2 separate regions of the Homo sapiens genome follow, and region 2 is linked to region 1. The links come from fine-mapping of genetic effects on gene expression. Tissue or cell type: atrial appendage. Region 1 holds a variant in brackets; the other region holds the start of a gene. All regions are shown on one strand. Distances are between the middles of the regions.

What was found. PIP is the estimated chance that this variant, and not a neighbour inherited with it, causes the effect.
Region 2: it holds the start of NAA80, and the variant in region 1 is fine-mapped to the expression of NAA80 in atrial appendage (GTEx, PIP 0.94).

What each region holds. Positions count from the first base shown.
Region 1 is chr3:50,439,463-50,442,215 of GRCh38, reverse strand. The region is part of intron 2 of CACNA2D2 (calcium voltage-gated channel auxiliary subunit alpha2delta 2); the gene reads left to right. Among named protein-coding and RNA genes, the nearest start is that of CACNA2D2, 63 kb to the left of the region's middle. The variant A/C (reference allele first, on the strand shown) is at 1,160.
Region 2 is chr3:50,298,366-50,300,988 of GRCh38, reverse strand. It overlaps NAA80 (N-alpha-acetyltransferase 80, NatH catalytic subunit), which reads left to right and starts at 1,584. Exons shown (of 2, transcript NM_001200016.2): 1 at 1,584-1,776. It overlaps HYAL3 (hyaluronidase 3), which reads left to right and starts at 1,584. Exons shown (of 4, transcript NM_003549.4): 1 at 1,584-1,776. HYAL1 (hyaluronidase 1) reads left to right here. Exons shown (of 4, transcript NM_033159.4): 3 at 1; 4 at 189-1,096. The coding sequence ends at 506. RefSeq lists an enhancer at 1,851-1,990.

The sequences.
Region 1 (2,753 bases):
GGGATTGTCACTTCTGTAGTAGGGAGACCTCATTTGATTCTTTCTCACTCCAAACCTGTCCCCAAAGCATCCTCGTGACCACCAAGGGAGCCAGAATTTAGGGGAGATAAAGTCACAGACTGCAAGCTTCACATAGGCACACGGCCATAGGAATGCTGTTATCTAACGATGGCAGCCTGGAATCCAGCCACGGTGCTTGCTAATGATGGGTGAGTCCCTTCTCAGCATTCCTGACAGCTGGGCTGGAATAGTCCCTGTGGTGGGGGGCTCACTACTTATCCAGGTGTTGCTTTCAGGCTTTGGGAGTCCTGAGTGTGGGAAAGTTCCTCCCACTTCCGAGCTGGATTCTGCAACCCTGTTCACAGAAGCCATCAGGAACCTTGGAGAAAGGACCTCTCATTTTGGAGCTGGGTGGATACCATTTCCTTCTAGGACTGTTCTCCCCTGAGATACAGGCCTTAACACTGGAGGCCTCAAGTCAGGCCTGGTGTAAATGGATAATCAGGATTGCCACAGTTTTCAAGTCAGTTTGGAAATTCGCGTATGTTTCAGAGGAGCAAAGGGCTACACCCAGGAATGGGCCATGCCCAGTGTCTCTGGTGGGTGGTGCCTTGCCTGGGGGCACATTTAGGGCAGGCCTCACAGGCAGGCTCTGCACAGGGGCAAGCACAGGGAGGTTGGCACAGACTGGCCCTTGCTTGGCTGGGAGGATTTGGTTTATTGTTTTGTGTTGGGTTTTGTGTCTTTTGAAAAACAAGAGATTGAGCCTTTTTATGACATGGATTTTACAGCGTAACGAGGCAGCGTAATTTCCCATTCTCAGCAGCAAGTGCACTTTTTACACTAATTGCATAATTAGACATAATGTACTAATTGCGGTAATGGATGACAGTCAACTAAACTTTAACTTTAAAAACAGGGAGGCGTTGCTGGGGGTGGTGGTGGGGGCTTCAGGCCCCTGTGAGTTTTGTGAAGGTAATCTTGCTGGTGAAAGCTCCTAGAAGTTGCCTCTTGAGGACGAGGGACCACAGAGCCGCCAGGCCTTTCTCACCTTGTGGTCAGTCACATGTCCCTCCTTCCTGGAGGATCCCCCTGTCCCCACCACCTGGGTATCTGCTCCCCTTGCCCTCACACCCTGTCTCCCCAGCTTCTGTCCCCC[A/C]ACAAGCCCCTCTGCAGCCACTGAGCAGTCCCTTATCCCCGCTTCTCCCAGCCTTTGCACCTGGCGCTACTGCTGCCAAGCGTCCCTCGTCCCTGTCCACCCACAAAAACCCCTGCCCAGCCTTTCAGACTGCTCAGATGTCCTCTCCCCTGGAAAGCCCTCCCCAGGCTTTTTCTTGCCCCCTACCACCCTGGAGCAGGCCAGCCCCACTCCCAAGTGTCTCCTGCACAGCTCTGTCTACTGCCACCTGTCTGGGCATCTGTCCCCTCTGGATAGAGAGTCCCAGGAGGGCAGGGACGAGGTCTGTTCCATCTCTGCTGTTCCAGGGGGATGTAAGGAGGTGGGGGTGGGGGAGGATAGTGCTATTAATGGGCCGCCCACCCAGGAGACCAGGCCAGGCACCCTCCTCTCTGCTCCCACACTGCTGTGTGACCTCCACTGTAGCCCGTGCAGGCTGATTGTAATGGCCTGGTTCTGTGTCTGTGATGCCCTCTAAAGAGAGCGTTCATCCCAGGCATTCTGTACTGGATATGAAGGGGAATTATTAATGGGACAACTAACATCACAGTGTACAAAACCTGTGTGTGACAGGACACCATATACAGCTGAGTGACCATGGGGCCACCCCGCCTGGGATGGTGGCAGTGTGGCATGGCCACTTAGGAACCTAACATGGCAGTTGGCAAAAATGTCAGCAGCTGATGAAGCATGTAACTGAGTGGCACGCAGCCCCCCTGCCTGGGCACCGATAGTGTGCCCTGAGGGCTCCAGGGGCCCCTTGCCCTACTGTAAGCCCTGTGCCAGGCTGGTGAGGGACAGGCCTTAGCCCCCTCCTGGGGAGCTGCCAGTCACACACCCAGTCTCGTGGCTGGTGTGTCCCCAGAGCAGCCAGATTAGGGTTTTTGTGCACCCATCATGGGGCAGCCCCTCAGTCCCATCAAGAACTAGGCTATAGGGAGAGCCCTGAGGGGTGCAGCCTGTCCTGGATCTGTCCCAAGTGCTGTCAGTGGTAGAGGGTCCCCAGGTGCCTGGTTACCCCATCAACTCTCCAGTCTTCAAGGTGGATTTGCAGTTATGTCAATACCCTCTATTTTCTCACTGAGGCAGAAGGCCAGGTTAGCAGCCTAGAAGGGGTGGGTGAGGCAGGGGGCCCGGACCTGGCTCTACCCTGACTGGCTAGGGTCCTTGAACTGGTCACTACCTGTCGCCAATCGCCCTACCTCATTGGCCCAGCTCAGGCTTCCTGAGCCACCACAAGCCCCCTAGCCACCCACCCAACATCCCTGACATGAGTGTAGCCCAGTCTGGCAGCTGACCCCGGCCTCCAACTGCAGACCCTGTGGCCTCTTGAGGTGGTTCCCTCCCCAGGGCTTGTTTATTTGGGTTGGGCCTCAGGAGGCCTCGCCCACAGTCTCTCATCCACTGGCTGCCCTCCCTGCAGGGGCCTAATGGACAGTTAAGACTTTCACCTGGCTGCTCCCTGTGGTGAAATGTGGTGAGGGGATTGGAGCGCCAGTCTCCCCGGAGTCATGCCTCGGGGCTCAGGCCAGGGGTGCTGGAGCACCTGGCAAAACCCCAAGGTGAGCTGGGTCTT
Region 2 (2,623 bases), 140 kb after region 1:
GGTGAGCTTAGGCCTGGCATGAGGGTGGGGGTGGGGGAGGGGTGGGGCCATTAAGCTGACGGGGTAGACCCTGACTTACCCTTTCTACCTGCAAAGTCCTGGCTGACCAGCAGGTGAGTGCCTCAGTGCCCTGGGTGGGTCCATACATGGCCATGGTGTCCCTGACGCTATCCTCCCTTCCCACCTAGGAATCATGTCAGGCCATCAAGGAGTATATGGACACTACACTGGGGCCCTTCATCCTGAACGTGACCAGTGGGGCCCTTCTCTGCAGTCAAGCCCTGTGCTCCGGCCATGGCCGCTGTGTCCGCCGCACCAGCCACCCCAAAGCCCTCCTCCTCCTTAACCCTGCCAGTTTCTCCATCCAGCTCACGCCTGGTGGTGGGCCCCTGAGCCTGCGGGGTGCCCTCTCACTTGAAGATCAGGCACAGATGGCTGTGGAGTTCAAATGTCGATGCTACCCTGGCTGGCAGGCACCGTGGTGTGAGCGGAAGAGCATGTGGTGATTGGCCACACACTGAGTTGCACATATTGAGAACCTAATGCACTCTGGGTCTGGCCAGGGCTTCCTCAAATACATGCACAGTCATACAAGTCATGGTCACAGTAAAGAGTACACTCAGCCACTGTCACAGGCATATTCCCTGCACACACATGCATACTTACAGACTGGAATAGTGGCATAAGGAGTTAGAACCACAGCAGACACCATTCATTCCATGTCCATATGCATCTACTTGGCAAGGTCATAGACAATTCCTCCAGAGACACTGAGCCAGTCTTTGAACTGCAGCAATCACAAAGGCTGACATTCACTGAGTGCCTACTCTTTGCCAATCCCCGTGCTAAGCGTTTTATGTGGACTTATTCATTCCTCACAATGAGGCTATGAGGAAACTGAGTCACTCACATTGAGAGTAAGCACGTTGCCCAAGGTTGCACAGCAAGAAAAGGGAGAAGTTGAGATTCAAACCCAGGCTGTCTAGCTCCGGGGGTACAGCCCTTGCACTCCTACTGAGTTTGTGGTAACCAGCCCTGCACGACCCCTGAATCTGCTGAGAGGCACCAGTCCAGCAAATAAAGCAGTCATGATTTACTTAGCTGTTTACTGAGCGCCTAAAATGTCCAGGCCCCGGTATCCAAAGGGCACAGGAAAGGCTTGTCACTCTCACCAGATCTGACGTCAGTCTAAGGGCGGCTGCTTCCCAGGGTGGGGCCCAAATTTCAAGAGGAAGCCCCACCTGATCGGACCGTTTCCAAGCTGTCCTGGGGCAGGAGGCCGGCGGGAACCGAAGCTAGACTTGTCAGAGCCTGGGGCGGGGCTGGCGGAGGCAGAGCCAGCTGGAGGCGGGGCCTGCGCCTGGCTGAAGTGACGTGCTGGGCTGGGGCAGGGCCTGGAAGAAGCCAAATCGAGGCGGGACCTAAGCTGTGACGCAAGGAGAAGGAGGAGGGGCCTGTATGGGGCCGGGTGGGGAGGAGGCGGACTCAAATGGAGATGGGGTGGGGCTCAGCAGGGGCGGAGCCAGGGTAGAGACTGAGTCGGCGCCTGGCGGGTGTTGTGACGCGCAAACCAGGGGCGGGTTCTAAGCGGCGACGCGCGGGTGCTGGGAGGCCTTAGAACGCCGTGGCGTGCCGCAGGACGCGACGGCTGCAGAACATCCGCCGCACCGCTGGGGGCCAACGTTGTCGGACCGAGGAGTCCGAGGTGGCGACTGAGTGAGATACCCAGCTGTGCGGAGCTAGGACGCGGAACATCCCAGAGGCCAGCATCAACATGTCAGTACCGCACCCTTCCCATTTGCTGCCTGTAGGTCCACCCCGCGCGTGCGGTCCCCAAGTGGCCATGCCACCCTGCACGCCCTCCCCGCGTCAGTCGTTCGTTTCCAGACCATGCCGAGCCACACCTGCCCACAGAGTCGAGCTCTCGAAGTCCTCATTCCCAAAAGCTCCACAGCCTGTGACCCACTAGGAGGGAGGGGGAAACCGAGGCCCGGGAGAGACGGAGAAGCCACTCTCTGAGGACCCCGGAGCCCCGCCCACAGTGGGTGGGGTCGGCACTGAAGGGGTTAAGGCCGCGGGGAAGCCCCGGGCTCAGCCCTAGGGGCGGATCCTGGGGCTTCCTCCCTCTAGACCAAAGGGTGCGGCTGCTGCAGAGGTGGCTGATGCAGGTGAGGGGCTTACAGCCCTGTGAATGGTGTGGGAGGTGAGGGGAGGGGGGTGCCTGTTACTGACCAGTGTTTAATTGGCCTCAAGCTCAGGAGAGGTAAGGGGAGCCAGGAGGCCCCCTCTGGAGCAGGTGAGTAGAAGGAGGGGGCTCAGCTGCCCGCCCACGACTAGAAAACCCCCAGCATAGACCTGCCGGACGGCAGGACCTTGGTTAAGATGGGAAAACAGTAGGGTTTGGGCACAGGAGGTCTGGGCCCCCAACCTGGTGACCGTTGGACACCCTGTGGATATAGGAAGGAAGCTGTGGTCCTTATCTAGGGTGCCTGCGAAACTCAAGCCAGTGGGGAACCAAGCCTGCAGAGGCAATACTGCTGTGTGACTGTGGGCCAGGCCCAGTGCTGGTGCTGCTGGGGCCCCATCTGAGGAGACAGTTGGGTCTATATCCAAAGTGTCCTGA